2 separate regions of the Homo sapiens genome follow, and region 1 is linked to region 2. Evidence: fine-mapped expression QTL. A gene starts in region 2. The other region holds a variant in brackets. All regions are shown on one strand. Distances are from middle to middle.

Region 1 (16,683 bases), 21 kb after region 2:
GCCAAACATAGTCTATAACATCAGTTTTAGAAATCACCCCTTAGGAATTAGTACAAAAATGGAAAATCCTACATCTGCGAAGAAGTTCATTTCAGTATTGATTACAAAATAAAGTTTTGTGAAACCATGCATCATATTATGCATCCATTTAAGATACATGTAATCAGCATGGAGTAATTTGGAGCAATGCATGTGATGTGAAATGAAGTGGAGAAAAGCAGTACTTGATAAAACAGTGGAAGAAAATACACTGAAAAGAAAAAGCCATTGGTTTTAGGGAAGTGGAATCGTGGTTGATCCCCTTTTCATATTCCTATCTTCCAGTCTTTCAGGAATATGATCACAACAGGATGTTGACTGGGACTTTTCCTGTTTTCTCAAAAGACTTTGAGATCTTTACATCTTTACTTTTTAAAAGAGCCTCAACACGTTGCTAGACACAAACCAATCTTGTGACCATCACTCCATTATCACATACCTATAGACTACAAGAAAAGACTTGAAATGTGAAAGGGAGGTTCTTTAAACAGGAAAATGTAGTCTTTATTGTAGGGGGAGAGTAATGTGGCTTTTTCCCTCCTGGGCTGTCCTCTAGGTCTCCTCCCCACCTTTGCCCCATGATGACGTTGGACAGTTCACTGGGAGGGCTTGGGACGTTTTGATGTGTCCCTTGGAATTTTGGGGATAAATGAGTCTGATGTCTCCCGCACACCTGGAGAATTCTTAAGGCAAAGGCTGACTGGAGAGGCCCGTGAAAGAAGAAAGAGGAGAAAGGGCAACAGCGGACAGCCAGCAGTGGAACTTCCCAATTTGGTGTTGCAAGGATGTGTGTGTTTAATACGGGATCTGGCAGTGTGTGCCCTGCTTGGAAACTTAACTTGGCTCCTTGGTCCCTACCCTTGTGGAGGTTATACTCTGAGTGGGAGGCAGATAGTAATCAAAGAGTCCTATAAATAAACATAAACCTACTTGTCGGAAGTACTAAAGTAGAAAGGTGCATGGTGCTACACGAGCGTATAGTAGGTATGCTTCGCCTCGTTAGAGAGGTCTGGGAGGGTTTCCTTGTGGAAGTGTTGTATGAGATCCTAAAATAAGAGTTAACCAGAGGAAATTCGTGGGGGAGGATGAGAGCATTCCTGGGGGGAGGCAACAACATATGCCAAGTTCCTGTGCTAGAAGGAGCATGCCTGTGCAAGGAACAGAAAGAAGGTCCAGTCGGGCAGAAAGCAAGGGAGAGCAGGTGCAGAAGTGCAAGGCCAACCATGGGCCTTGTGGGCCATGTTGGAATTTAGTCCTTTATATTAACAGCTCTGGAAAGAGATTAAAGCATTTGAACCTGGGAATGATGTTCTAAGACTTGTGATTTGAATGGATCATTCTAGCGGAAGTGTGGTTAAGAGATTATCAGAAGAGAATGCATGCAGGTGTAGATCTTTTTACTAATTTTGCTTGGAATATAGTGGGGCATTTCGATCTTCAGAGTATTTCTCTGGAAATTCAGAAAGTGTTTTCCTATATATTATACCCCTGGATCCACTTACTCTGACCCTCTGATCCATTTACTGTTTTCTTTAGACATTCTTTAATACTTACAGGTTGGATCTATGTAACTCATCCTCCATTCTGTAATTATCAGAATTTTCCTTCTTTTCTCTTGCATTCTGAGAAGATTTTAATGTTTATGCAAGGTCCATTTTTCTGTTTATTCTCTCCAGTTTAGGTTATATTTTGACCATTGTGTCAAATTTTATTTTATTGTATTTCTTCATTTAATTTCTTATCTCAGTCTATTACCTTCTTATTCTTGCACCTGATTGAAATAAGAGAAAAACTTATTTAAAAATACTTTTGTTGTCTGCCTTTCAAATAAGGGCTTTTTCTTAGAATCTTCAGGATGTTTTTCTGTTCTCATGAACTACAGACGTATATTATGGTTGTGGCCATGGGAGTGGTGAAATGGTGCAGCTGAATGATGGTGTTTGCAATGATAATGGGGGTGATTATAATACTGATGGTGATAATAATGGTTAAATGATGAGTTGGTGATAATACTGAGAATGATAGTGTAATAGGAAAAGGATGATAGTTCTGGGATGACGGTGAATCAAAGCGATGATGAGAATACTGATGGGTGATGAGGTTGTAATGATACATGATGAAAATAACAGAGTGATAGTGGTGGGGAAAGTGAAGGTGTCTTGGGTATGTGCTTCGTAGCTAGTGTACACACTTGGGATAGAATTAGGTAAAAGTTAAAACAAGTTTTTTTTGATGCCTCTGAGGGACACTGAGTCACTTACACTTTTTCTGCTTTGCAGCTGGTGTTGGCCCAGCTGCCTATTAAGCTGAAGTTCTTAATGATGTTCCTTCCATTTCCTGAAGCACTGAACTTAACAAGCCTCCCAGGAATTCTCACTTCTGAGCAACTCAACTGTGGCTTAATTGGGCCACAGCCAGGAGGGAAGACTTCCGAGGCAGAGGGACCCAGGAGTGGCCCCCAGTAACTGGGGAATAAACTTGGAGCCTCATAGCAGGAGGAGGAAAGAGAGAGAGTGGAGACTGTCAAGATATTACAGAGCGTAGCTCTCTGTATAATTGGCAGTTCTTATATCCTCCTGGGAAGTGTCAGCCTAATGCAGAGCTTGTGCGAGATTCTCAGCAGCTCAAAGCCGGGGGCCTGTGATTATGACTGCGAAGTGTCATACACAATTCTAAGGCAGGTCCCTGAATTCAGGTGATTATGTGTCTGCCTGAGAAGTTTTTAATCCACCTTCAGCTATCCTTGACATGCAAACCAGTCACTGAAGATCAGTGCTATTAGGAGCCTTCAAAGTTGGCTTTGCTGGTTCTTAAGTGACAGTGCAAGGGCTAGTACATCCTGGCTGCATCAGAAACCTCTCAAGTTTTAATTGCTATTATTTGTGATTTCTTTTATTTTTTTTCTAATTACACGAGTAGCCATTAATATGCTCATTATAAACGTTCAAATACAAATAAGTAAAGGTTCTCTTCGATCCTCTCTTCAGCACCAGTCCTCATACCAGAGGTTAAGTCTGCTTCCACACTTTAAAAAAATATGCTTTAACATTACGTGTGTGAATATAAAGAAATATGATTTTTTCTAAGGTAGAGGATATAATGTCTTTTTTCTAAGGTAGAGGATATAATGACATCATAACATAACAATAATACAAATTTTTATTGCTAGGCCAAACATATATATATGTGTGTATATATATGTGTGTGTATATATATGTGTGTGTGTGTGTGTGTGTGTGTGTGTATATATATATGCACTAACTTTTAATGGATGCTTCCAAAAGGGCACTATTCAATTTAAAGTCCCATCAAGAATGGTCATTAGAGGCCAGGCACGGTGGTTCACACCTGTAATCCCAGCACTTTGGGAGGCTGAGACAGGAGTATCACGAGGTCAGGAGATTGAGACCAGCCTGGCTAAAACGGTGCAACTCCATCTCTACCAAAAATACAAAAACTTAGCCGGGCGTGGTGGCGGGTGCCTGTAGTCCCAGCTACTCAGGAGGCTGAGGCAGAAGAATGGCGTGAACCTGGGAGGCGGAGCTTGCAGTGAGCCGAGATTGTGCCACTGCACTCCAGCCTGGGCGACAGAGGGAGACTCCGTCTCAACAAAAAAAAAAAAAGAAAAAAAAAAGAATGGTCATTACAGAAATGCAAATCAAAACCACAATGAGATACCATCTCCTGCCAGTTAGAATGGCAATCATTAAATAGTCAGGAAACAACAGATGCTGGAGAGGATGTGGAGAAATAGGAAAGCCTTTACACTGTTGGTGGGACTGTAAATTAGTTCAACCATTGTGGAAGACAGTGTGGCAATTCCTCAAGGATCTAGAACTAGAAATACCATTTGACCCAGCAATCCCATTACTGGGTATACACCCAAAGGATTATAAATCATGCTTGTAATCCTAACATTTTGGGAGGTCAAGGCAGGTGGATTGCTTAAGCTCAGGAGTTTGAGACCAGCCTTGGCAACATGGCAAAACCCTGTGTCTACAAATGTACAAAAATTAGCCAGTCCTGGTGGCACGCACCTGTAGTCCCAACTAATTGGGGGGCTGAGGCAGGAGGATTGCTTGAACCCGGGTGGTTGAGGCTGCAGTGACCCGAGATTGCACCACTGCACTCTAGCCTGGGCAACAAAGTAAGACCTCCATCTCAAAAAAAAAAAGAAAAAGAAAGAAAGAAAGAAAGAAAAGGTAATTAGTAAATTGGAATTAAAAACTGAAGAAATTACTTCAAGACAAAGAGATGAACAACATGAAAAAGAACTTAAAAGCCACATCCACATAAGATAGAAGAGAACATGTTGTATAAATTTGATGTAGCAGGAAAGAGTAGATAGGAGAAAGACAATACTTGAAGAAATTCCCCCAAATTGATGAAAGACAAAACAACAGATTAAAGAAGTCTGACAAATTCTCAAGCTGGATAAGTAAAAAGAAATTCACATCTGGATACAACATGGTCAACTGCTGGATGAAATCAACCCAATAGTCCCATAGACACTTTTTTTGTTGTCTTTTTGTTTTTGGATAAACATAGAAATGGACCCTTCTGGTCAATTTCTTTTTTCTTTTTTTTTTTGAGGCGGAGTCTCACTGTATCGCCCAGGCTAGAGTGCAGTAGCATGATCTCAGCTCACTGAAAGCTCCACCTCCTGGGTTCACACCATTCTCCTGCCTCAGCCTCCCGAGTAGCTGGGACTACAGGCACCCACCGCCACGCCCAGCTAATTTTTTTTTTGTATTTTTAGTAGAGATGGGGTTTCACCGTGTGAGCCAGGATGGTCTCGATCTCCTGACCTCGTGATCCAACCACCTCAGCTGCCCAAAGTGCTGGGATTACAGGCGTGAGCCACCAAGCCTGGCCCTTAAAGCTTGAAACTTGCATTTGTTTTATCTGAGTTCCTTCTTAGCAACACCCTCAGGCCACTCAAAAAAAGTATCAAAGAGCTGAAACTCACCAGGTCACAGCATCCAGACAATGAAATGCCAGACACCTCATTCATCACTATTGCTTCCTTACCCCTCCCTAGTTCCTTGGGAGGGGTACATTTTCTGTTTTCTTATACATTGTTATATTTCTTCCCTGCCATATAAACCTCTAATTCCAGTCATCAGGGGAGACAGATTTGAGACTGATCTCCCATCTCCTTGGCTACAGCACCCAATTAAAGCCTAAAGCCTTCTTCCTTGGCAATAATCCTGGTCTCAGTGATGGGCTTTCTCTGGGGCAAGCAGCAGGACCCACACCAAGCCCCTGGTGTTGTGGTAACACTGAATACAAAAGACAAACAGAAGGTCTTAAAAGCAGCCAGAAAAGAGAGATTACCTATGCAAGGCTGCCAGTTAAATTGATAGCTGGCTACTCCATAGCAGCAATACAGGTCAGAATACAATGGAATAATACCTGCAAAGTGCTGAGAGAAAACAATAGTCAGCCTAGAGTTCAAGATCCAGCAAAATGATCTTTCACTAATAAGGGTGAAACAAAGACATTTACAGGCAACAAAAATGACAAATAAATATCAAGTATGTAAAGTAATAATAATAATTATTGTTTGAGACAGTCCCCCTCTGTCACCCAGTTTGGAGTGCAATGGCACAATCATGGCTCACTGCAGCCTCAGCCTCCTGGGCACAAGTGATCCTCCCACCTCAGCCTCCTGAGTAGCTGGGACTATAGGCACATACCACCATGCCCAGCTAATTTTTAAATTTTTTTGTAGAGATGGGGTCTCCCTATGTTGCCCAGGCTGGTCTGGAACTCCTGGGCTCAAGCAATCCTCCTGTCTCAGCCTACCAAAGTGTTGGGATTACAGGTGTGAGCCACTGCACCCAGCCAACAATAATAGTTATGACCAAATTTTGTGTTAAAATTTTTAAAATAGCACTAAAATTCTGGACAAGAATAACCTGTAAGTCCAGAGGAAGGTGACTGGAGATGAACTATACCATGTCCCAGGAAAATAAATAACAAAGTATGGTCACAGATAAGGCTTGGTAAAATCACAAGAAAAATACTATGAATAGCTTTATGCTAATAAATTTGAAAATAGATAACTTTTAAACTGATGAAAAGGACACTTTTATATAAAAATATAATTTAGATGAAATGGACAATCTTATGTAAGGATATAATTTACCAAAAACAGTCTTAAAACCTACATTGATCTATAACCTTTAAATAGATAGAATTAATAGTTTGTAATAATCTGCCCCCCTCCCCACTAAAAAAAGGACCTTGGAAATTTTAAAGGCAAGTTCCGTCAAATATTCAAGTGGCATATGATTCTAATTTTACACAAGTTGTTCCAAATAATCCAAAAAGGGGGACACTGGGCGGGAAATGCTCTCAAATTCATTTACGGTAATCAATCTAATTTGATACCAAAGCCAGTAAAAAGCTGAAGAAAGAAAATACATAGACCAGTTTCATTTACGAAGAGAGATGTAAAGAGCCTCGATACATTAGCAAACCATATCTCATATGTACAAAAAAAAAAATCTTTTAGCAAATAAGGATTAAAAGAAGCTTTCTTGGCCAGGTGCAGTGGCTCACATCTGTAATCCCAGTGCTTTAGGAAGCCCAGGCAGCTGAGGAGGGAAGATCACTTGAGCCCAGGAGTTCTAGGCTGCAGTGAGCTATGACTGTGCCACTGCATTCCAGCCTGGGCAACAGAGCAAGACCCATCTCAAAAAAAAAAAAAAAAAGAAAAAAGAAAAAACCAACAACAACAGCAACAAAAAACCAGCAGCAACTTTCTTAAACCTAAAAAGTATATCTTCTAAAAATCTATAGCAAACATCAACCTTCATGGTAAAATACTACATATAATTTAAGTCAGAAACAAGACAAAGATGCCCATAATTACCACTTCTCTTCACATTGCACTAGATGTCCTGACTAGTGCAGTAAGACAAGAAAAACAAACATAGAGTTTAAGAATTGATGAGTAAACAAAGTTGCTAGCATTCATAAATAATTGGGTTGTGTATATAGAAACACCAGAGAAAATACAAAGTACAATGTAAGTTTACATAAGAGTTTATCAATTTTATGAAAGAACAGAAAGATATTAGTGTTTTAAAGATATTAGTGTTTATTTTTAAATTATAGTGATTAAAATTGTGTGGTTTTTGACCACTGAAACAGAATAAAGAGACCAGAAACAGACCTTCATACATGGGACAGTAATATGACAAAAGTAAGCCCTACAAATCAAAGTAGAAAAAATGGTCTATTCAATATTTGATCTTAGGACAATTGGTTACCCATATTTAAAAAAACAGAGCCTTATATATCACACCATATATACAGATCCATTTCAGGTAGATAATCAGTTTGATGTGAAAGCAAAACTTTAAACTTTTAAAAGAAATTATAATAATGATCTGTTTATGAGCTTGGGGTAGGGAAGGATACAGAACATATAAAATGTAAATTATGTAGGATAATACATTTGACTACAAATAAAATGTGTCTATGTATCTAAAGGTACAACAAACAAATTGAAAAGTTACGGTGTAGTCTGGGGGAAAATATGTGTAGCACAAATATCAGCTGAAATAGCATTTCACTTAATCTTCATGGCAACTCTGTGAGATGGGTGTTTTATGTCCACCTTATAAATGTAGAAATTGAAGCTAAGTGAAGATAATACATTTGCTCATAATTGTGATAAACAAAGATTCAACCTAGATCTGTCTCCTTCTGAAGCTTATGCTTCTAATCCCTCTACCACAGCTCCTTGCATAAACACGAAGCACCATTGAATGGGTGCAGAGATGAGGGGCAGAGGAACGGAGACTCTAGCACAGGAGAGAAGCCAAGAAGGCATCCCCAATATGAGAGAAAAGTGAGACTTCAGGATGATAACAAAGTAACCAAACCAGGTTGAAGCAACTCAGAAGGCTCCAGAAAAGAGATCTTCAACAAGATGAAGTTTTAAGAAAATCTTGTGTATCTGAATTTGGGAGAAAACTTAGACAATAGTGGGGAAAGTATGAAGATGAATTAGTAATAAATAAATATAAAACTAAAGAAGAAAGGTAAATGGAAATTAAACACTATCTATACAGTGTGTGTGTCCTTCAGTAGGTGAGTGAATAAATAAATTGTGGAATATTTAGGGGATGAAATTCTATGCAACAGTTAACAATGAACCCACTACAACGATCCATGTATCAGCATAGATAAGTCATTAACAAGAATGTTGAGTGAAAAAAACAAATCAGAAAAAGTAAAACATACATTATTTTATATTTAAAATATGAGAACAAAATAATACTATATATAATATTATTTTTTAATAAATCCATATTTGATAAAAGACTATAAACATCAACAGAAGAATATACACTAATTTCAGAATAGTGTCTACTTCTGGGGAAGAATGGATTGATACAATTATAGCAAAAAGTTAAAAGGTGTTAAACCTGGATGATGGATACAAGGATGATTGTTATATTTTTGTTATATTCATTTGCATATTTTTCTGTATTTAGAAAGTATTCCAGAAATCTTTAAAATCAAACACGCACACACACACACACACACACCCACGAGGAAGAACTGCTTAAAGTGAATCAACTCTTTTCCAAACTGCTTTCAGCCTCCAGGCTTTGGAAATTTAATACCAAAGCCTGGTCCATGTTTTGATCAAAATTCTTGGGGCAACTGAGTACAGAGGCCCATCTAGGTTCTAGGAAATGTTAAGCAAAACAATGGGCCTTGCCCCAGGAAACACATCAATAAGGAAGACTCTGAAAGTTTCTATAAATTGAGCTGATAAATTGATCAACAAAAATATTGACATGAACACTGTGTATTCAAACTGGCATGCTAGTACAAATAAGGCAACAGCAAAGAGGGAGGAGACTCATATTTATTTCGCACAATAGAGTCCACTGTTGAAACATAAGCCTGCTTTTCTCAGTACACCCACCAGGCCAGTAAAATACTCAAGCAATGCTAAGTGATAAAGTTAAGCCTTTTATCAGACCTAATTAGGTCAGTCCCCTCTGATCTTCCAGAGCAAAAGTTGATCAAAAATCTACAGAAATATTAATGGCAAGTAACATTTATTAAATGTACTACAGTATCCCCTCATCTGTGGTTTCACTTTTTATAGTTTTAATTACCCATGATCAACTGCAGTCTGAAAATAGGTAAGTACAGCACAATAAGATATTTTGAGACAGAAAGGGGCTACATTCACATAATTTTTATTATGGTATATATATGTGTGTGTGTGTGTGTGTGTGTGTGTGTGTGTGTATATTTTTTGAGACTGTCTCTCTCTGTCTCCTAGGCTGGAGTTCAGTGGCATGATCTCAGCTCACTGCAACCTCCACCTCCCGGGTTCCAGCAATTCTCCTGCCTCAGCGTCCTTAGTAGCTGGGATTACAGGTGCGCACCACCACACCCAGCTAATTTTTGTATTTTTAGTAGAGACAGGGTTTCACCATGTTGGACAGGCTGGTCTCAAACTCCTGACCTCAAGTGATCTGCCCGCCTCGGCCTCCCAAAGTGTTGGGATTACAGGCATAAGCCACTGCGCCCAGCCTATTACAGTCTATTCTTATAATTGTTCTATTTTATTGCTAGCTATTGTTAATCTCTTACTGTGCCTAATTTATAAATTAAACTTTATCATAGGTACCTATCTATAGGAAAAAACATAGTATATATAGGGTATGGTACTATCTGTGGTTTCAGGCATCCACTGGGGACCTTGGAATGTATCCAGTGTGGATAAGGAAAAAAACGACAGTATTTTTCAGTTGTGTTTCTAAGTTCTTCAGATGTAAATGCAGAATCCTCCCAATGCTATTTTGCCCCTCATCTTACTGATGAAGGAACTGAGGCCCAGAGAGGTTAAGGCCACATTGAAATAACATGGTGGAGTTACAATTCAAAACCAGGTATTCATGCAAAAATCCAATTCAAATTGGATCATAGAACTAAATGTGAACGTTTTTAAAAAGACAAGACTTGGAAGTCTAAAGAGTTATGTTATGGTGATGTCAGCAAGATGGCAGAAGCTCCAGGTCCCTGTTCTCCCATGGAAACATCAAGTAAATGACAACGTATTTACTGAAAATCAGAGGCCGGGTGCGCCGACTCACGCCTGTAATCCCAGCACTCTGGGAGGCCAAGGCAGGCAGCTCACTCAAGGTCAGGAGCTCAAGACCAGCCTGGCCAACATGGCA[C/A]AACCCTGTGTCTACTAAAAATACAAAAATTAGCTGGGTGTGGTGGCACATGCCTGTAGTCCCAGCTACTCGGGAGGCTCAGGCACGAGAATTGCTTGAACCCAGGAGGCGGAGGTTGCAGTGAGCTGAGATTGTACCACCGCACTCCAGCCTGGGTGACAACAGCAAGACCCTGTCTAAAAAAAAAAAATCTCGGCTCTTACAGTTGTAGGAGCTGTAGAAACCAGTCAAGGATCTGCAGCAACCAATCAATTAAACACCCAATCAAGACAAAGCAACACTTAACACAGTAGGAAATTGTGTTGCTTTTTTTTTTTTTTTTTTTTTTTTTTTGAGCCCTTGCCTACCTTCTCCTCAGTGCAACACAGTCAGGAGGAAGTCACACAATTCCCCTTTCAGAGGGAAAAGACTGGGACTTGTTTGCACTGTTCTGTCTTGTCTGGAGGCTGCCTGAGGAACTGATTTTTATCTCATCTGACTCAGCTTAGATGGGAACGGTGGCATAGTTGGATAGCAGGTTGGACCCCACTGAAAGCAGTGGCAGGTGCCATGGCACATGAAAACTGCCGGAGAACTGTAGACCCAAGGGCACTTGGAGCGGGAGATTACAGGCAGAGAATTACAATGGAACATCTAAGACCCTGAGAAGAAGCAGGGGTGAAAGTCTTAGGAAAATCAAGACGTTTAAAAGCCGCTGTGCATATCTTTGAAAAGCCCACAACTAACGTCATACTCAATGGTGAAAGACTGAAAGCTTTCCCTCTAAATTAGAAGCAAGAATGTCTCTTTTTATCACTCTATTCAACATAGTACTAGAAGTCTTAGCCAGAGAAATTAGGCAAGGAAAAGAAATAAAAGGCATCCAAGTTGGAAAGGAAGAAGTAAAATTATCTCTGTTCACAGACAACTTGGTCTTATAGGTAGAAAACCCTAAAAATCCCAACAAAAACAGTGTTGAAACTAATAAACCAATTTAGCAAAGTTACAAGATATAAAATCAACATGCAAATATCAGTTGTCTTTCTATGCACTAACAACAAACAATCCAAGAAGGAAATTAAGAACAAAATTTTATTTACAATAGCATCAAAGGGATAAAATACTTAGGAATAACCTTAGAGGCAAAAGACTTGTTCACTGCAAACTACAAATTTTGGTGAAAGAAATTAAGGAAGACACCCTTAAGTAGAATATCCTTTCCAATCCATGTTCATAGATTGGAAGATATAATATTGTTAAGAAGTCAATATTACCAAAAGGGATCTACAGATTTGACATAATGTCTATCAAAATCTCAATGATTTCTTTTTAGAAATTAAAAAATTACCTGGGCAATGATTCTATGAAAAAAAATCCACGTCAAACTAAGATAAAATCTCAAGGGACAAAACAATCGAAAAACAAAGTCGGGGAGGAGCCAAGATGGCCGAATCTACAGCTCCCAGCGTGAGCGACGCAGAAGACGGGTGATTTCTGCATTTCCATCTGAGGTACCGGGTTCATCTCACTAGGGAGTGCCAGACAGTGGGCGCAGGTCAGTGGGTGCGCGCACCGTGCACGAGCCGAAGCAGGGCAAGGCACTGCCTCACTTGGGAAGCGCAAGGGGTCAGGGAGTTCCCTTTCCGAGTCAAAGAAAGGGGTGACGGACGCACCTGGAAAATCGGGTCACTCCCACCCGAATACTGCGCTTTTCCGACTGGCTTAAACGGCGCACCACGAGATGATATCCCGCACCTGGCTCGGAGGGTCCTACGCCCACGGAGTCTCGCTGATTGCTAGCACAGCAGTCTGAGATCAAACTGCAAGGCGGCAGGGAGGCTGGGGGAGGGGCGCCCGCCATTGCCCAGGCTTGCTTAGGTAAACAAAGCAGCCGGGAAGCTCCAACTGGGTGGAACCCACCACAGCTCAAGGAGGCCTGCCTGCCTCTGTAGGCTCCACCTCTGGGGGCAGGGCACAGACAAACAAAAAGACAGCAGTAACCTCTGCAGACTTAAATGTCCCTGTCTGACAGCTTTGAAGAGAGTAGTGGTTCTTCCAGCACGCAGCTGGAGATCTGGGAACGGGCAGACTGCCTCCTCAAGTGGGTCCCTGACCCCTGACCCCTGAGCAGCCTAACTGGGAGGCACCCCCCAGCAGGGGCACACTGACACCTCACACAGCAGGGTATTCCAACAGACTTGCAGCTGAGGGTCCTGTCTGTTAGATGGAAAACTAACAAACAGAAAGGACATCCACACCAAAAACCCATCTGTACATCACCATCATCAAAGACCAAAAGTTGATAAAACCACAAAGATGGGGAAAAAACAGAACAGAAAAACTGGAAACTCTAAAACGCAGAGCGCCTCTCCTCCTCCAAAGGAACGCAGTTCCTCACCAGCAAGGGAACAAAGCTCGATGGAGAATGACTTTGAGAGCTGAGAGAAGAAGGCTTCAGATGATCAAATTACTCTGAGCTACGGGAGGACATTCAAACCAAAGGCAAAGAAGTTGAAAACATTGAAAAAAATTTAGAAGAATGTATACCTAGAATAACCAATACAGAGAAGTGCTTAAAGGAGCTGATGGAGCTGAAAACCAAGGCTCGAGAACTATGTGAAGAATGCAGAAGCCTCAGGAGCTGATGTGATCAACTGGAAGAAAGGATATCAGCAATGGAAGATGAAATGAATGAAATGAAGTGAGAAGGGAAGTTTAGAGAAAAAAGAAAAAGAAATGAGCAAAGCCTCCAAGAAATATGGGACTATGTGAAAAGACCAAATCTACATCTGATTGGTGTACCTGAAAGTGATGGGGAGAATGGAACCAAGTTGGAAAACACTCTGCAGGATATTATCCAGGAGAACTTCCCCAATCTAGCAAGGCACGCCAACGTTCAGATTCAGGAAATACAGAGAATGCCACAAACATACTCCTCGAGAAGAGCAACTCCAAGACACATAATTGTCAGATTCACCAAAGTTGAAATGAAGGAAAAAATGTTAAGGGCAGCCAGAGAGAAAGGTCGGGTTACCCTCAAAGGGAAGTCCATCAGACTAACAGCGGATCTCTCGGCAGAAACCCTACAAGCCAGAAGAGAGTGGAGGCCAATGTTCAACATTCTTAAAGAAAAGAATTTTCAACCCAGAATTTCATATCCAGCCAAACTAAGCTTCATAAGCGAAGGAGAAATAAAATACTTTACAGACAAGCAAATGCTGAGAGATTTTGTCACCACCAGGCCTGCCCTAAAAGAGCTCCTGAAGGAAGCGCTAAACATGGAAAGGAACAACCGGTACCAGCCGCTGCAAAATCATGCCAAAATGTAAAGACCATCGAGACTAGGAATAAACTGCATCAACTAACGAGCAAAATCACCAGCTAACATCATAATGACAGGATCAAATTCACACATAACAATATTAACTTTAAATGTAAATGGACTAAATGTTCCAGTTAAAAGACACAGACTGGCAAATTGGATAAAGAGTCAAGACCCATCGGTGTGCTATATTCAGGAAACCCATCTCACGTGCAGAGACACACATAGGCTCAAAATAAAAGGATGGAGGAAGACCTACCAAGCAAATGGAAAACAAAAAAGGCAGGGGTTGCAATCCTAGTCTCTGATAAAACAGACTTTAAACCAACAAAGATCAAAAGAGACAAAGAAGGCCATTACATAATGGTAAAGGGATCAATTCAACAAGAAGAGCTAACTATCCTAAATATATATGCACCCGATACAGGAGCACCCAGATTCATAAAGCAAGTCCTGAGTGACATACAAAGAGACTTAGACTCCCACACATTAATAATGGGAGACTTTAACACCCCACTGTCAACATTAGACAGATCAACGAGACAGAAAGTCAACAAGGATACCCAGGAATTGAACTCAGCTCTGCACCAAGTGAACCTAATAGACATCTACAGAACTCTCCACCCCAAATCAACAGAATATACATTCTTCTCAGCACCACACCACACCTATTCCAAAATTGACCACGTACTTGGAAGTAAAGCTCTCCTCAGCAAACGTAAAAGAACAGAGATTATAACAAACTATCTCTCAGACCACAGTGCAATCAAACTAGAACTCAGGATTAAGAATCTCACTCAAAACCGCTCAACTACATGGAAACTGAACAACCTGCTCCTGAATGACTACTGGGTACATAACGAAATGAAGGCAGAAATAAAGATGTTCTTTGAAACCAACGAGAACAAAGACACAACATACCAGAATCTCTGGGACGCATTCAAAGCAGTGTGTAGAGGGAAATTTATAGCACTAAATGCCCACAAGAGAAAGCAGGAAAGATCCAAAATTGACACCCTAACATCACAATTAAAAGAACTAGAAAAGCAAGAGCAAACACATTCAAAAGCTAGCAGAAGGCAAGAATTAACTAAAATCAGAGCAGAACTGAAGGAAATAGAGACACAAAAAACCCTTCAAAAAATTAATGAATCCAGGAGCTGGTTTTTTGAAAGGATCAACAAAATTGATAGACCGCTAGCAAGACTAATAAAGAAAAAAAGAGAGAAGAATCAAATAGACACAATAAAAAATGATAAAGGGGATATCACCACCGATCCCACAGAAATACAAACTACCATCAGAGAATACTACAAACACCTCTACACAAATAAACTAGAAAATCTAGAAGAAATGGATAAATTCCTCAACACATACACTCTCCCAAGACTAAACCAGGAAGAAGTTGAATCTCTGAATAGACCAATAACAGGATCTGAAATTGTGGCAATAATCAATAGCTTACCAACCAAAAAGAGTCCAGGACCAGATGGATTCACAGCCGAATTCTACCAGAGGTAAAAGGAGGAGCTGGTACCATTCCTTCTGAAACTATTCCAATCAATAGAAAAAGAGGGAATCCTCCCTAACTCATTTTATGAGGCCAGCATCATTCTGATACCAAAGCTGGGCAGAGACACAACCAAAAAAGAGAATTTTAGACCAATATCCTTGATGAACATTGATGCAAAAATCCTCAATAAAATACTGGCAAAACGAATCCAGCAGCACATCAAAAAGCTTATCCACCATGATCAAGTGGGCTTCATCCCTGGGATGCAAGGCTGGTTCAATATACGCAAATCAATAAGTGTAATCCAGCATATAAACAGAGCCAAAGACAAAAACCACATGATTATCTCAATAGATGCAGAAAAAGCCTTTGACAAAATTCAACAACCCTTCATGCTAAAAACGCTCAATAAATTAGGTATTGATGGGACATATTTCAAAATAATAAGAGCTATCTATGACAAACCCACAGCCAATATCATACTGAATGGGCAAAAACTGGAAGCATTCCCTTTGAAAACTGGCACAAGACAGGGATGCCCTCTCTCACCACTCCTATTCAACATAGTGTTGGAAGTTCTGGCCAGGGCAATTAGGCAGGAGAAGGAAATAAAGGGTATTCAATTAGGAAAAGAGGAAGTCAAATTGTCCCTGTTTGCAGATGACATGATTGTATATCTAGAAAACCCCACTGTCTCAGCCCAAAATCTCCTTAAGCTGATAAGCAACTTCAGCAAAGTCTCAGGATACAAAATCAATATACAAAAATCACAAGCATTCTTATACAACAACAACAGACAAACAGAGAGCCAAATCATGAGTGAAATCCCATTCACAATTGCTTCAAAGAGAATAAAATACCTAGGAATCCAACTTACAAGGGATGTGAAGGACCTCTTCAAGGAGAACTACAAACCACTGCTCAAGGAAATAAAAGAGGATACAAACAAATGGAAGAACATTCCATGCTCATGGGTAGGAAGAATCAATATTGTGAAAATGGCCATACTGCCCAAGGTAATTTACAGATTCAATGCCATCCCCATCAAGCTACCAATGCCTTTCTTCACAGAATTGGAAAAAACTACTTTAAAATTCATATGGAACCAAAAAAGAGCCCGCATTACCAAGTCAATCCTAAGCCAAAAGAACAAAGCTGGAGGCATCACACTACCTGACTTCAAACTATACTACAAGGCTACAGTAACCAAAACAGCATGGTACTGGTACCAAAACAGAGATATAGATCAATGGGACAGAACAGAGCCCTCAGAAACAACGCCGCATATCTACAACTATCTGATCTTTGACAAACCTGAAAAAAACAAGCAATGGGGAAAGGATTCCCTATTTAATAAATGGTGCTGGGAAAACTGGCTAGCCATATGTAGAAAGCTGAAACTGGATCCCTTCCTTACACCTTATACAAAAATCAATTCAAGATGGATTAAAGACTTAAACGTTAGACCTAAAACCATAAAAACCCCAGAAGAAAACCGAGGCATTACCATTCAGGACATAGGCATGGGCAAGGACTTCATGTCTAAAACACCAAAAGCAATGGCAACAAAAGACAAAATTGACAAATGGGATCTAATTAAACTAAAGAGC
Region 2 (16,683 bases):
TTTCCTGAGGAAGGAGCCACGCTTACCAAGGGCTCTAAGTCCCATCCAACTTCCTGGTTTTCAGTCTGTGTCTCTGGGTACTTCTTCCTTGGTCCCTGGGCAGCATGGTGAATGAGATTCAGAAACCTGGCTGGGAGACGAGGTATGAGTTATGAAGGAGTCAGGCTTTGGGACCAGAGGTTGGTCCTGTGCCCTTTCCTGCGTCCACATTGTTCCTTTCAGGCAGAGCATCTGTGCCTTGGAGGTTTGCCTCAGCCTCAAGACCAGGGTGTCTGGTCTCTCCACTCATCTTTCAACAAATATGTGGTGAGCTCAAACTCTGTGCCAGACATGCTTCCGGGCGCTGGGCATAGAGTGCTGAGTGACAGCATGGTCCCTGCTCTCCTAGAGCTCATACTCTAGATGAGGCAGAGGACACAGTATTCAGGTTTACAAAATGACGTGATGGTGGCAGACAGGGATACACACTGTGAAGAAAGGAATAGGTGAAGGGTCATGTGCAGGCAAGGGCAGCTGCTGTAGATGGGGTGGCGAGAGAAGGCCTCTCTGGTTGCCAAGCAGGAGCCAGCCCTGGGAAGAGGCAGAGGAAGAGCACACCACAGGCAGCAAGAGCAAAGGTCCTGAGGCATGAGCGAGTTTGGCCAGTGTAGCACAACAGAGAGTGAGGAGCAAGGTTGTAAGAAGTGAGGTCAAATCTTTGTGTATTGAAATAAGTATGGCTGCCGACAACAGATGGATTTGCAGCTCCATAGTTCTGCCCTATCGAGTCTCCACCGGAGAGACGCAGGCGGACAATGGAATGAACCTGGGCTTTGGAGTCAGTGCTACTACCGGCTTGTTGGGTGGCATCACTTCTCTGGGCCACTTTACTCATCTGTGAAATGGGAGGAAAATGTCTATCTCAGCAAGATGGCTGGGAATGAAATGAAGGAAGGTGATTCAAGGGACTGACACTGGGCTGGCACATCCTTCATATAAGAGAGCGAGCAGCTAACTCCTGCCTGGCTTTCAGGACCCTCATTTCCTGTTCTATTCCTTATTGCTACAGGTTCCCAGCTTGCATCCTTTACCCTAGTCAGGAGAGTGCACTACAGATAACACCTTATTGCCTGTGATGATGCCCTCTCTATTAGTCTACTGACTTATCTGCCTCCTTCGTAATGCTCTGAGAGCCTCTGCTCCCCCACTTCCCATCCCAGCCGCGGTCATCTGTCCTTCACCAAATTTTGCTCATGGAAGGTAGAGGGGAAGAAGGAAAGCTTTCCAAGAGGGATCAGGTTTTCCACCAAATATCTCTCCTCTCTCACTCCCAAATAGGGCCCTTTCTCCACCTGTATGTTGTGGCCATGCCAAACTACTTGTAGTCATGTTTCTCATTTCTGTAACTTTCTATAGAACTCGGAATGTCCTTCCACAATCTTCTCCACCTCACCCTGTGGTCGCCTCCTCCAAGAGGTCTTCCCAGAACTCCACTGCCTGATGGGGGCACCTGTTTCCTATGCTGTTCTCACATCAGTCATGGTCCCTCTTTACTTGTCTACTTATTTCCAAGTCTACTTCTCTTCTTCTTCATTATGCTATGAGATCCCTCCACCCAGCCCCACCATAGAGATTACCTAATAATGAAAATAATCATGGGACTAATATTTCCTGAGGACCATGTACCAGCTACTGTTCTATGCACTGGTATTGCTTTGTTTAATCCTCACATCAATCCTGAGAAATAGGCTAAAAGAGGTAAAAAACCTGCCCAATGTTACAGTTAATGAGTAGCAGAACCAGGATTTGAACTGAGTTAGTACAGCTTCAGAACTTGTGCTTATAACATCTACATGTTTGATGAATGAACGAAGGCAATGTTAAGTCAATAGGAACGTTAGTTGGCTTGACAGTTATAATTGAGTATGTCCATCTTTTAAAAATTTTATTTAAAAAAATTTTTATTTTTTTTATTCTATCTACCACAGACTGTCTGAGTATCCGTCTTTTTTGAGCTTGGTTAGTATGAGTCCCATTTCCAGGATCAAAGCAGAGGACTCTGATGCTTGCTCCAAGATATCACGACCCTGAGAGGTCTCTCCAGCCAGCCTGCCTCTCTGGGCTCTATCTCAATGGCATTTCAAAGCCCAGGACTTACCATCTGCAGGTTCCTCCAGGTTATCATGCCAAGACATGGGCTTCCTGGTGACTGTATGAACTAGAAAAAAAGAAAACAGCTTCACAAGTTCAGATTAAAACATGAGTTCCCTGCCCTCTCTAAGGTCCACCTTAAACAGGGCACCCATTTGGCACTCACTGAGTATCTGGTACATGCCAGGTATTATCCTGGGTGCTAGGATAATGCACGATTGGATAAGGCCCTCAAGAACCTCACAATCTAGAGTGGCACTGCCCAGAATGGTGGTCATCAGCCACATGTGGCTCCTTGAATTTGAATAACTAAAATTAATTACAATGAACACTTCAGTTCCTTAGCCACGTTAGTCACACTTCAAGTGCTCAATAGCTGCAGGCGGTTAATGGCTACAGTTTTGACTACAGCCAAGACAGAGAACATTTTCATCACTGATGAATTCTCTTGGACAGTGCTGGCCTATGGGGAAGGCCAAAGAGGTTTGCCAGGCAGTGATCTATGCCCAGGAGGGCACATGGTAACAGAGGAGCAGCACCCACATTCATCCACTCAGCTCATAATTACTGTGCACTGAAGAACAGGCTGTAAACAAGACAGAGCTGGCTCTTGTGTCCCCTGAGCTTTTACTCTATTTGTGGTGACAGGCAATAAACATACATATATCACCCGGCAAATGTAAGTGTGATAGAGAACAGTAAAGCAGGTTACGTGGATGGAGAGTTGGCGTTGGGGCTGGGGTGTGGGTGATGTATCTCTAGGGAGATACATATGAGCAGAGTTTTGAATGAAGTGAGGGAATGTGCTGTGTGTGTGGGAAGCATATGAGCGTGAGCCTGGGGAGTTTGAGAAACGTCAAGAGAGCCAGAGTGGCTCCAGTGGAGTGAGCTGGATGGAGAGTAGTGGGAAATGAGCAGACACCAGTAGAAACCAGTGGTCTCCAAGCTGCTTGTCTCAAACTCCTATCAGTAAAAGAACTTTAGAGCATGCGCCCTTAAAATATGTATAATTATATAGTTTTTATGGACTATTATCAGTATATTAGCAAATAAAATTTCTATCTTTATAAATAAAAGTAATCAATACAAGTTGTAATATTTTCTCACTTTATTCCAATGGCTCACATGCTCAAGGGACATGAGCTGGGAGGCAGCATTTTCCCTAGAGAGCATGAAGGTTGCCTGAAGAGATTATTTCCATTATTTGGAATGGACCGAGTTTGAACGGCTTTGGACACTAATTTGCTTTCCTGAAACTAGTGGTTGGGGACTCCAGAAGAAAACCAAGTTAGTTAGAAGGAAAGTGAAGACAGTACATTTTCTCTATAGAGCCAGGCAACAAAGTGGACTTTACATATTAGGCACAGAGTTGGGAGAGGCATTCAGGAAGAAGCAACAATGTTTATGCAGGTAAAGTGGGAAATGACATGATGCATTTAGGAAATCCATGTATTTAGAAATGGCAGGGGGGAAAGGAGTGTGTGTGGGATTCGTCAGCAATGGCTGGTGCAGAGTAGGCACCAAAGTATTTCTTAAAGGAGCAGGGTAAAGTGGGGGAGAGGAGTATGGCATGAAGCTGGCAGGAACCAGAGCCAGATCCAATGCGCCTTATGTCGTGATTGATTTAAACTTTACCTCAGAGGCTATGAGAAGGATTTTAGGTGGGATTGATGTGATCTAATTGTCCTCCTAGCATAGTGCTAAGCTAGCAAAGGTGTAGGGGTTTGGTCGGAGGGGCCAGCTTGGAGGGAAAGAGAATAAGGAGTTGGGAGCCCATCAGACCAATCCAGGCGGCAAGGACTAGGGCCCTGCAGAGGCTTCAGGAGTGAGGATGCAGGCAGAGGCTGTTTGAGGTGCTACTTAGAGCATGAAAGTACCTGAGCAGAGGCAGAGAGGAATCCATATGCATGATGGTGTCTTTCACTGAAGCAGGAACAAGTGGGTCAGGGGAGAGGAATGTTAATAAACAGGACTTGTGCCTTTTTTTAAGTGTGTGGAGGGAGAGAGACCTTGAGGAGGACTCCGAGGCTTCTAATGATCATGAGATCATTAGATGATGAGAGTGAATGATTCTGATCATGAGAGTGAATCATCCGGGGCCTTTTGCAGAGACAGGGTATTCTGGAGCAGCAGAGAGTGGGGAAGGTGGGAATGAGCCTGGCTTTCCTCCTGCTGGGTCTGAGGTGCCTGTGGGTTGTCCAGGGAGGGGAGCTGTGAGGTGGTTGGGCGTGTGGATCTGAAGCTCCATTTCAGGCCCAGTGGCATTCAGGGGAAGCTGGTGTGACAGGACAGAACAAACTGCCCAAGGAGAGTGCTCAGTGACAAGAGTGGAGGGTAGGGATGTTTTATCAGGGGGCACCCCAGAACTTTCCGAAGGGCAATATCAGAAGCCTGAAGAAAAACCTTTCACTTGTTAAAAACAACCCAAAATACAAACAAAAACAAAACACAAACAGCCTGCAAAATATAATTATTTCAAAAGTAAAATAATAAAAAGCCCTACAACTTTTTTTTTTCTACAACGAAAAGATTTAATCGTGTTGCGCATGAACTTTAATACAGCGAATACATCTGATATGATGTGGCCTCTCCAAAGTCATGGTTCCTGAAATCTAGGAAAGGGGGCGGGTGCTGGGGAAAGAGTTTTTGCTGGGACCGCGTTCCCACCCCGCAACCCGGAGGGCTCCTCCTTCCCCGGCGCCCTCCCGCTCTCGCCCTTCCCCCACCCCGCCGTGCCTCTCACTCTTGCGGAGGGGATTCACGTGATACTGCGTGTAGAGTTTCTGGGTTCGTAGCTCCTTGAGGTACAGTTCCCGCAAGATCTGGTTCTGATGGACCTCATCTGGAATCACCTTCTCTTTTGGGTGTCCCGCCATGGCCTTGGGCTGCCACGCGCCCTCTTGCCTGGGCCTTCCACAGTCTCCAGGCAACGCGTCCCCGCTGTCTCCAGGCAACGGCGTCCCGTGGTCTCCAGGCAACAGCGCTCGGGTAGTGCTGCCCGGTCGGGGCGGGTCTCACTCTGCCAGCCCCTTACCCTGCCTGCATCGCCCCGCCCCGCGCCCGCCGGTCGGGATCTTATTTCGCGCCCCGCCCTATTCTGGCACTGTACTCACTTGCCCCAGCTCCTCAGGCCCGGCTGGTTACTAGAAGGTCCCCTGGATACCGCCAGGAAAGGGCTTCCCGGCAAGGGGCAGACCCAGGAGGTAAGGGACAGATGATTGGACCTCACCTTGGCCAATCATTTCCTAAAAAAGCTTTTGGAAGGAGTCAGAAACCTCTCCCACCTTAAAGCAGATGCCCAGAATCAAAACCTCACAAAAAAACCGGAGGTTTCCTCTCTGAGAAAACGTTCTGGCCAGTGTGACCAAGATTACCAATGTGATAATATTGACAGAATAAACCTTTCCTAATTAAGGAACTTGTTGACTTTATAGTTTATTTTTAATGTTTGTGTTTAAAATGCACGTAATATAATTTTACCATCTTAGCCATTTTTAAGTATTACAGTACAGTAGTATTAAGTATATTCAAACTATGTGAAACCAATCTCCAGAACTTTTTCACACCCATTAAACAACAAGTTTCCCTTTTCCCTTCTCTCCAGCCCCTGGCATTTCACTTTTTGTTTCTATGAATTTGAGTCTGCTAGATACCTTAAATAATGTAGTTTATTTTAAAAGAATCGCCGAGCACGGTGGCTCACGCCTGTAATCCCAGCACTTTGGGAGGCTGAGGCAGGTGGATCACCTGAGGTCAGGAGTTCGAGACCAGCTTGACCAACATGGTGAAACCCCATCTCTACCAAAAATACAAAATTAGCCAGGCGTGATGGCATATGCCTGTAATCCCAGCTACTCGGGAGGCTGAGGCAGGAGAATCGCTTGAACCCGGGAGGCGGAGGTTGCAGTGAGCCAAGATTGCGCCACTGCACTCCAGCCTGGGGGACAGAGCGAGACTCCTTCTAAAAAATAAAAAATAAATAAAAAGTAGGTCTAGCATAAAGAAAGAAGCCACCCCTATTTTTAGTAAGCACCTAAATACTGTCTGAAGACTGTGCTCTTCCCCACTCAGTACTTCATTCATTCATCCATCCATTCATTCGCTCAGGACACAATGTGAATTGCAGAATGGGTTTAGTCTGGGACACAGTGTTGAACAAAATTTTTAATTGGATTGTTTATCAATTTGTTGGAGTTCTTAATATATTATTTTGAGGGCTGTACATGCTGCAAATGTATTTTCCCTCTGTGTGGCTTGCCATTTTAGTCTCTTAATGGTGTCTTCTGGACACCAAAAGTTAAACGTAGTCAAATATATTAGTCTTTTCCTTTATGATTATTGCTTCTTAATTTTCATTTAAGACATCTTTTTCTAATTTGATGACCTGAGGTTACTTTTATGTTACTTTTTAGAGCAGTGCTGTTCAATAAAAGTATGAGCTGAGCCACTCATGTAGTTTAAAACATTCTAGTATCTGCATTAAGAGAGCAAGAATTAGATAAAACTAATTTTAATAATGTGATATTTAACTCAGTATATCCAATTTGTCAATGATTCAACGTTTGAATATAAAAATTATTGAGATATTTTACATTGTTTTGTCCTACTAATGTTTAAAATCCAGTGCAGATTTTACACTTCATAACACATCTCAAGAGCTCCATGGCCATCTGTGGGCAGAACTATTAATATTTAAGAGGATTTGTTGTTTTACCCTTTCTCAGTGAGATCTGTATTCCACCTGAAATTGGTTTTCGAGTGCAGTGTGAGGTAGGAATCCAGCTTAATTTTTTCTTTCCAAAGGAGTATCCAGTTGACCCACCAGCAAATTATTGAAGAGATAGTCCTTCCTCACTGGTCTGCTATGCTACTGTGTCCATAAAAAAAGTGTCCCCATTTGTGCAAGTCCATTTCTGGACTCTATTCTGTGCCATTGGTCTATTTGTCTAAGCTTGCAACAGCACTACACTATCTTAATTACCATAATTTATGTAACACATTCTAATATCTGGTAGGGAAGAATGTCTTCTCAAGACAGTCTTGCCGCTTCTTGGCCCTTTGTATGTCCATATAAATTATAATGAGCTTGTCAAGTTCCCTAAAAATATCTTTTGGGATTTTTATTGAGATTATATTGAATCTAGACCTCAGTTTGAGGAGAGCACTTCTTAATGTCATGTGTTCATGTGATGCTATCATCTGGTCAGGATCTGGACACATTCTTGCCTTCTAGACTGCTACCTTTCCCATTCTGAAGTAGAAGTGCTGCCTGAGCAAGAGGCTCACCCTCAGAGCTTTGATGAGAGCACAATGGAGGGACCCTCCCCTTTTTGCAGGAGACATTTCTCAAGGGCAGAACGTCCTTGGGATGGTCCTGGAATCCTAGGATGAAGAAAATGGAGTCTGGGAGGAACCAGACCAAAGGAAACAAACCTAAGTCCCCATCTATCTACAGCAGGGACCTTGTGCCCTATGTGTGATTCTCAGGGGTTGCACTCACTTGAATGCAGGGCAGATCGACAAGACTTACCCTCCAGAGAACACATTAGATGTGTTCCACTCTTCACTCTCCTCTTCATTCTCTGTCAATGGCCCTGCAGTTTGCTCTGTGGCTACAGACCAAGTTCCGTGGAGAAGCCAGTCTCAAACGTAGAGAACCTCATGCAGGCTGGCTGACCAGGCATGAGAGGAAAGGAGCAAACTGTCAAAAAAAAGGAAATCTCTGGCATCTGAAGAGGATTGCCCAGACGGGAATGGAGACAAAATAGAAATAGTATCAAGGTAACCAGGATCTGGTCATGGAAAAGGGGTCCTGTCACTTACCAAGGCTGAAGGTGGGTTTGCTGTTGTCTTGCATTCCGTGTGTCCACCAGGCCAAGCTGCTGGGAATCCACAGTCCTGGCAATTCTGAACTGCCCCAGAACTGTCCCAGCATGAGGGAAACCATCTCTCCAGGATGAGAGCTGTGAATTGTCATGGTTGGTTGGGGGTGGCTCGATTGGGAGTGGGAGCTAGAGTACAGGGGATTAGAAACAAGGGCTAGGAGGAGGAGCGGGGGAAAGGCAGGGGTGTAATGGAAATTGGGACCCTGATGAACGTGGTGGCAGCAGATGCACGGTTTAAAACCCACAGAGGAAGAGCTGGGCAGATCCTTACAGTAGGGTAGTGGGCGGGGCTGACATTATTCGGAGAGGGGTAACAGATAGGGCAGAACCCCAAAAAAGTGGGATGGCACAGAAGACTAGGGTGCAGGCTTGAAAACTGAGGAAAAACAGCAGAAAGGAGGGCTGGATGATGAGAGCATTAAGGAACAGAAAAGGTGAAGTCATGGGTTGAGAAAGAGAAATTTGAGGTAGCTTGCTTGTCATTCTTTCAAATGGGAGCTCTAGTTACTTGTCCAAAGGAGTCCAAATGAGTCATTGGGATGTGGCCAGACCAACTCCAGGATTTATCTCACACACAGCCCTCACATCATCCCCTAACTGAATGCCCATTATGAAATGTACATACACATCCCTTTTGGTCTAGTGAGCAGGTCCCACCAATCAGGGAAATGGCACCAGTTTCTAGGTTTAAGAGTTGTCATGGGAAATGGCAAAGAGAAGAAATGGGGCTGTAGTATTAATCCTTGTTTTTGGGATACTATGTAATTTTGCCCTCAGTAGGCAAAGATCGACCAAAGGGCTAGGATAGATTTAGAGGGCTGGAGCCTAGGTGAGCGGTGCTGAAGCAGGAATTGGGAAAATGGGAAGAAATTAGTGCCTCAGTCTCCTTCCCTGACAACACTGTTCAAAGCCCTTTTCACTGCATTTACATCACTGGATAGATATGTGTGATTAAAGATGTCACGTCCATTTTACCATGAGGACGGTGAAGACCAGAGAATGAAGTCCCTTAGGTGGGCAGGGGGTGACAAAGCAGATGGGACTAGAACTTGGGCCAAAAGAGGGCAGGTAGGAGGGAGCACAGAATGGCGCAAAGCGCAGACCAGCAGCTTTGCCTCCTCCTGCGTCTCTGAACAGGATCCTGTAGGGGGCGCTTCAGAGCAGAACTGAACTTTTTGGAGCGTACCATCTTGGTTCCTGTGTTCTCTTGGTTTGATGACTTACTCTTAACTGGAACCATAAACGTAGGGCTGAGACTGGCAGGATGACTGCCCACTCCTGGGTGCCTAACGACTAGATTTGGACTTCCTTGCTCACTACCAGAGATGCCTGTCTCCATGTCAGATAACTAAGGAGAGTGCACCCTCCCCCTTTCTTTAGTCTGATGAAGCAACCCCCTCTGCTGACCATTCCTGGTTTCTTTGATCACCATCCAAATCATAAGTCCCTTTGCTCACCTATTCTCTCTGGTATTTTTATCACCATAATATTCTGATTGTTCTTTCTTGACCCAACACCCTTTTCCTCCCTTACTTTCAGTTGTACTCTATGGAAGTTCAGCTGCATGATTAGTAAACTTCCCTATTTCCTTAGACTGCTTCTTTACGGACAGTTCCTTGCTTCTCCTGGCTTTAAATGTAATTTGGATTTCCCTTGAGGACATTGCTTCCTGTGTATTTCAGGTAGAGACTCTACTTATTCTCTGAAACTCTAAGTACTTCAGTGTGGGAATGTGGTGTATAGGTTCTCTTTGCTCCTTTTGATTCCTTTCAAACCATTATTCCTCTCTTCTTACTAAAAATCTCTTGCTCCTACATGTGTACTTGACGGTCGTGAGAGGAGAGAGAGGATTGAAAAACTACCTATGGTGTACTATACTTATTAGCTGGGTGGCAAATAATCAGTACACTAAACCCCTGTGACATGCAGTTTACCTATATAACAAACCTGCACATGCACTCCAGAGCCTAAAAGTTAAAAAAAAATTACACACATTATGTGTATATGTACATATGTATTTGTAATATAGACTTTATTTATTAAATATATAATATTTTAGAGTCAGTTGTATTGATATTTGTATAAATGATGCAACTATATATGATGAATAAATATAATATGCATATTTACATATAAATAGACTTGAATTGCTGGTATAAGGTATGTTGTTAAACTTTGATAAATTCAGCACGAACACTGAAAACCAGCAATGGTGCCCCAGCCCATGACCACTTCCCCACTGCAGTGCCCAAGGGTTATAAAGCTCAGGACCCTTCCTCATGTCTCTGCTGAGCCAAGCAGTGACCCGCCCAATGCTGAGGATGCTGAGTGACCTGAGGGGCCTGTGGGGGAACACAGAGCAGCAGGTGCTAGGGAGATAGATGGGCAGTGGGTCTGAACTCCCAGTGGAGGGATGTTTAAAGAAAAAAAAAGAAAACCTCTTGCTCCTTAAAGCTTGTGCTATACATCACCATTTCCCTGCACTGTCCCCTAACATCTCCTGGACACTCTCTTTCTCTCTTTTCCTATTAACATGGTTACAATTGTCTCAAAGTCCTATTCTTGAGTTCATCACACTGAGTGACTTCAGTGTTCATTTAGATGGCCTGATTCAATTCTCTGGCCTCTCTGTGTGTGTGTGTGTGTGTGTGTGTGTGTGTGTGTGTGTGTGTGTGTGTTTTACTTATAACACATTCTGTATTTTGTAAAAGTTTGATTTTTGACACATAAGAATTGCACATATTTATGGGGTACAGTGTGATATTTTAATACTTGTGTACATTGTGTAATGATCAAATCAGTATATGTAACAAATACATCACTTCACTTATTTCTTCTTGGTGCAAATATCGAAAAGACTCTTTTAGGTGTCTTGAAATATACAATAGTCCCTCTAACGTGAAATAGAACACCACAACTTATTTCTCCTATCTGTAATTTTGTACTCTTTCACCAATCTCTCCCCATTTCTCCTCTAGCAACCACTATTCTGTTCTGTACTTTTATGAGATTGACTTTTTTTAGAGCCCACAAATGAGTGAGATCATGTGGTATTTGTCTTTCTGTTCCTGGCTTTTTCACTTAATGTGATGTCCTCTAAGTTCACTTAACGTAATGCCCTATAGGTTCATCTACATTGCTACAAATAACAAGGTGTCATGCTTTTTTTATGACTAAATTTTATTCTATTGTGCATATGTACTACCTTTTCTTTATTCATTCATGCATTGATGGACTTTTAGGATAATTTCATAGCTTGGCTATTGTGAATAAGGCTCCAGGAAACATGGGAGTGCAGATTTCCCTTTGACATATTGATTTTCTTTGGATCAGTACCCAGTAGTGGGATTTCTGAATCATATGATACTTCTACTTTTAATTCATTTGTGGAAACTCTATACTGTCTTCCATAATGGTTGTACTAGTTTACACTCCCACCAAAACAGTGCGTAAGGGTTCCGTTTTCTCCATATCCACACAAGCATTTGTCATTTTCGCCTTTTTGATAATACTCATTCTATTTGGGGTGAGGTGATATCACACTGTAGTTTTGATTCGCATTTCCGTGATGATTAGTGATGTTGAACATTTTTTTCATATACCTGTTGGCCATATATATGTGTTCTTTTGAGAAATGTCTATTTTGGTCTTTTGCCCACTTTTAAATTATTTGGTGTTTGTTTTGTTTTGTTGCTATTGAGTTGTTTGATTTCCTTGTATATTTTGGATATAACCCCTTGTCAGATGCATGGTTTGCAAATTTTCACCAAAATTCACCACTTGCCTTCTACTTCAGCCACTTACGGGCATATCTGGTCCTTCTCATTACTGAAGAATTGTCCCACTTCTGAAACCACATATTCAGATATACTGTTCTCTGACCATGACTTCCTGTCCTTACAGTGTAGTCACTCTATTCCTCCCAATTCACTTGGCCTCCAGCCCACCATCCTTTCTTTCTCTATATCTAGTAACTCTAATTCCCATGCTGTCTTTACTTCCCTCCTTACATAGTTCAGAGTCAACAGTGGCCCTGAATAGCTGGGTGCGCTATTCTGGTAGCAGCCTGGAATATCTAGGCGCGCTGATATTTATTGCATGCAAGACAAGGGGTAGGGTAAGGAGGGTGAGTAGCCCAGGTGATTGATAAGGTCAAGCAAGTCACGTGATTGACCTTATCAATTTTATAATTTCAATGACTTTTTGAAAACCAATATTATCAATTATCTTGTGGTATTATATTTTTTAATCTCACTTTCCTGGAAAGAAAAACTCAACCTGGCTGATCCCAGCCATTTGCCTTTCATATGGTGCTGAATGCTGTTGAAAAAAACCTAAGAGATTGATACTAAATACTCTATCCTAAACAATACCCACAATCCTCAATTCATAGAAGTTGTTGGAATAAAAACATTGAAAGCAATCTAAATAATTATAAATAAAAATAGGTAAATTATGATAGAGCCACACCATACAATGTAAAAAGAAAATCCACAAATATAAAAAGGGATCTTATCAGTAATATATAAAAGAACTCCTATAAATAAATAAAAAAATACACACTCCAGTAGAAAAATAGTAAGAGACTTGAAAAGGTACTTCATGAAAGAGGAGAGCAAAATGACCAATCATATATAAAAAGGTGCTCAACCTCATAGATGTTCAGGAAAATACACATTAAAACCACAATGAGTTAATACTACAGACCCATCAGAATGGCTAAAATTAAAAAGATGGTCTATACCAAATACTGGCAAGATTATGGAGCAACTGGAGCTCTTATACCCTGATGCTGGGTATGTAGATTGGTAGAACCACTTTGGAAAATGTTTGACATTATGTACTAAAGAAGAGTATGCATGTATTGTATAATCCAGTAACTTCCTGCCTATCTATATGTATTAAATAAATGGTTACACAAGTATAATTAAAGATATGAAAGAGGTTCATGGCAGCATTATTTGTAATAAACCCAAACTGGAAACAACCCAATATTCAATGACAGTGTAATGGATAAATAAATTATGGCATATTCATACACTGGAATATTATACAGCAATACAAATGTATGAACAATACAGCTACATACAATAATATGGGTAAATCTGGCATACATAGTGTTGAATGAATGCAGGCACAATAATGCATCCTGTGTAATTCCATTTATAAAGCGTTTAAAGCTAAGCAAAACTAATCTATGGTGTAGGGTCCAGCCCTACGGGGCTTTGAGGGTGTTCTCCCCGTGTGCGGAGACGAGAGATTGTAAGAAATAAAGACACAAGACAAAGAGATAAAGAGAAAACAGCTGGGCCCGGGGGACCACTACCACCAAGACGTGGAGACCGGTAGTGGCCCCAAATAGCTGGGTGTGCTGATATTTATTGCATACAAGACAAGGAGGCAGGGTAAGGCAGGTGAGTCGTCCAGGTGATTGATAAGGTCAAGCAAGTCACGTGATCATGGGACAGGGGGCCCTTTGCTCTTAGGTAGCCGAAGCAGAGAGGGAAGGCAGTATATGTCAGCATTTTCTTCTATGCATTTATAAGAAAGATCAAAGATTTTAAGACTTTCACTATTTCTTCTACCACTATCTACTAAGAACTTCAAAGAGGAACCAGGAGTGCGGGAGGAACATGAAAGTGGACAAGGAGCATGACTACTGAAGCACAGCACCACAGGCAGGGGTTTAGGCCTCCGGATGACTGCGGGCAGGCCTGGATAATATCCAGCCTCCCACAAGAAGGTGGTGGAGCAGAGTGTTCCCTGACTCCTCCAAGGAAAGGGAGACTCCCTTTCACGGTCTGCTAAGTAACGGGTGCCTTCCCAGGCACTGGCATTACTGCTTGACCAAGGAACCCTCAAGTGGCCCTTATGCAGGTGTGACAGAGGGCTCACCTCTTGCTTTCTAGGTCACTTCTCACAATGTCCCGTTGGCACCTGACCCTATACCCGCTGGTTATTCCTTGGTTATATTAGTAATACAACAAAGAGTAATATTAAAAGCTAATGAGTAATAATATTTATACTAATGATTGATAATGTCTATGGTTATCTCTATATCTAATTTGTATTATAACTATTCTTATTCTAACTATTTTCCTTATTATACTGCAACAGTTTGTGCCTTCAGTCTCTTGCCTCAGCACCTGGGTAATCCTTCGCCCACACTATGGCATGTTAAGTCAGGGTAAGGCTTTTCTTTGGAAAAGATGGAGGAGGTAGTGACTGGAAGGAGGTTTTGGACAGGAGGTTTTGCTACACTAGCAGTGTTAGAGATGCCCACATGATTTTTGAAACATTTAATTATTTCTGATTAAACTCTTCAGTAACCTAAGAATATAATTACATTTTCTTAACATAATAATTACTATCTAACTGCCAATAATATCTCTGTTAAAGGATTAGCAAAAATCCAAGGGTGTTCCAGAATGTCTATACTAGCAGAATCCAGCTCAAATTAATTCTAACTGTACTTATCTGGTATAGACTGGTTCAAGTAGATTAAACCATTGCCAATTTCTCCACGTAACTTCAAACTGATCCAAATAATTTAAAATTAACCCAGACTATCTCTTAGCACAACTAATATCTGACTGTTAAAGTTGAGGTTATCATTGCCTTTTTTACAGAGAAAGACAGACTCAGCGAGACAATATAGAATAGAAAAAAGAGAGGAGCGTAGCGAAAGTTTTGGCATCAGACTGCCTAACTCTCTCACTTACTATGAACTCAAGTATATGACTTAACATCTCTAAACCTCTTATCTAAAAAGGGTAAAATAATAGTACCTATCAGACAGAATAATTATTAAGACTAACTAAGGTATTATATGTAAAGTATTTAGCCCAATGACTAGGCATTCAAATCAGGAAGCACTCAATGAATATTTGCTACTATTCTTATGATCCATTTCATCAGTCAGCAGAGGACAAGCTCTACCATGGTAGCAGATAACCCCTGCATATCAGTGGCTTAACACAACCAAGCTTTGTTTTTTGCTTCTATTTGGGGCTCAGAGGAGTCAGCGAGCTTTTCTTGGCAGCTGTCCTATAGTGATCACTTGGGGATGTCAGCTGGTTCTTTCTTGCCAGTCTGTCCTCTCAGAGGTTTCTAGCTTCCAACCACACAATGTAAGAATACATGGAGAATTTACACCATCTCTTTACTGCATCACATTGCCATCAGCAAATCTCTGTCACATGGTTTTTGCCAACCAATGCTAACCCTACGGGGCCGGGAAATGCCTGGGAAGAACCTATGGGATGAACACATAACATTGTCTCTGTCTTCATACCGAGGTTCATGCTGAGGGAGGCAGCAGGGGTGTTGCTTGAGCAAGATTTCTGATCCAGCCTAATAGACACGGCCTCCTACGCAGTTCTGGACAGTTGTTTTAGTGTGGAAATGTGGGCCCATCACCTAATTCTTCAAGAGAAGCCAGAAATCTTGATATTTAATTTAATTTTTTTTTTTGTATGTTTAGTAGAGACGGGGTTTCACTGTGTTTCGATCTCCTGACCTCGTGATCTGCCCACCTCGGCCTGCCAAAGTGCTGGGATCACAGGCGTGAGCCATCGCGCCCCGCTCCGAAATCTTGATATTTAAATGTTGACAGCCAATCCTATTTGAGAGAGTGAGAGTGAGAAGGACAGTGACTGTGCTGGCCAAATTAAATAGAATTCATGTGTTGAATATCAGGTAACAACTCTGATTTCATCCCACTCTTCCATCAGATAAATAGGGACGCTAAAGCCCAAGGGGAAAAGTAATTGGCAAAACCACAATAAACACTGACAGACTAATCAGTGCCCAAACCCCAGTCTGTGCTCTTTGCTCTGAAACATGGCTATAGCAAGCCCATGCTTTCCCTCCCACTCTTGATGCTCCCAGACTCAGCAGCCTCACTTCAAAAAGAGCCATTCTTGGCAGTGACAGGTATGAGAACTGCACCAGTGGAAAGCCTGGCCCAGTCAGGCTGTTGGTACAGGTACGGTGAGCAGGAAGTCCCAGGGCCATTGCCTATTTATTGGTGATTTGCGTATCCTTTTGTACTAAGTGCCTGTTTCTATCTCTAAATTATTTTCTACTAGCTTGCCTGTCTTGCTGATTTGTAAGAGTTCTGTATGTATTCTGAATAATTGTTCTTTGAAAAGCTTGTATGTGTTGCACATATTTTAAGACCTTGCTCTTAAGGTCCTCCGCGTGTATTCACTCCAGGAGAAACAAATCATGGGGAACAGAGGGGCTGGAGAGGATGGAAGCAGTATAGCACTCCAACACTTAATGCTTGCAACAGTCACCTTCACTGTCCACTCCCCCACCCCAAGGCTGCTGAAAGAATCTGGTGGTCAAGGGCAATCTGGTAGTGATGCTTGGACACCTGAGGTACCTGAGTCACAGGTTCTATCTGAACTTCAGACACGAGATGGCTCACAGCATTTGGAGAAGCTGGAGGAGTTTCATCATAACAAATGGTGTACAACAGCTAAATTTCTCCTAGACACCAGATTATTGATGTTTTATTATGGTTTTCGTTTATTTATTTGTTCTTGTTAATGGGGGGCTCAGATATTGAGAGTGCTTTTGTCAGAGACGTTTGAATCAGAGCAACTCCATCTTGTCTAGGGGATGGGTAAAATAAGGCTGAGACCTGCTGGGCTGCATTCCC

Evidence for each region. PIP is the estimated chance that this variant, and not a neighbour inherited with it, causes the effect.
Region 1: its variant is fine-mapped to the expression of CFAP144 in unexposed skin (GTEx, PIP above 0.99).

What each region holds. Positions count from the first base shown.
Region 1 is chr1:43,115,501-43,132,183 of GRCh38, reverse strand. No RefSeq gene overlaps it. Among named protein-coding and RNA genes, the nearest start is that of CFAP144, 24 kb to the left of the region's middle. RefSeq lists enhancers at 10,261-10,782, 11,331-11,971, 11,972-12,613. The variant C/A (reference allele first, on the strand shown) is at 10,260.
Region 2 is chr1:43,136,275-43,152,957 of GRCh38, reverse strand. CFAP144 (cilia and flagella associated protein 144) reads right to left here and starts at 5,054. Exons shown (of 4, transcript NM_001101376.3): 1 at 4,874-5,054; 2 at 2,138-2,197; 3 at 27-130. The coding sequence starts at 5,006. RefSeq lists an enhancer at 1-28.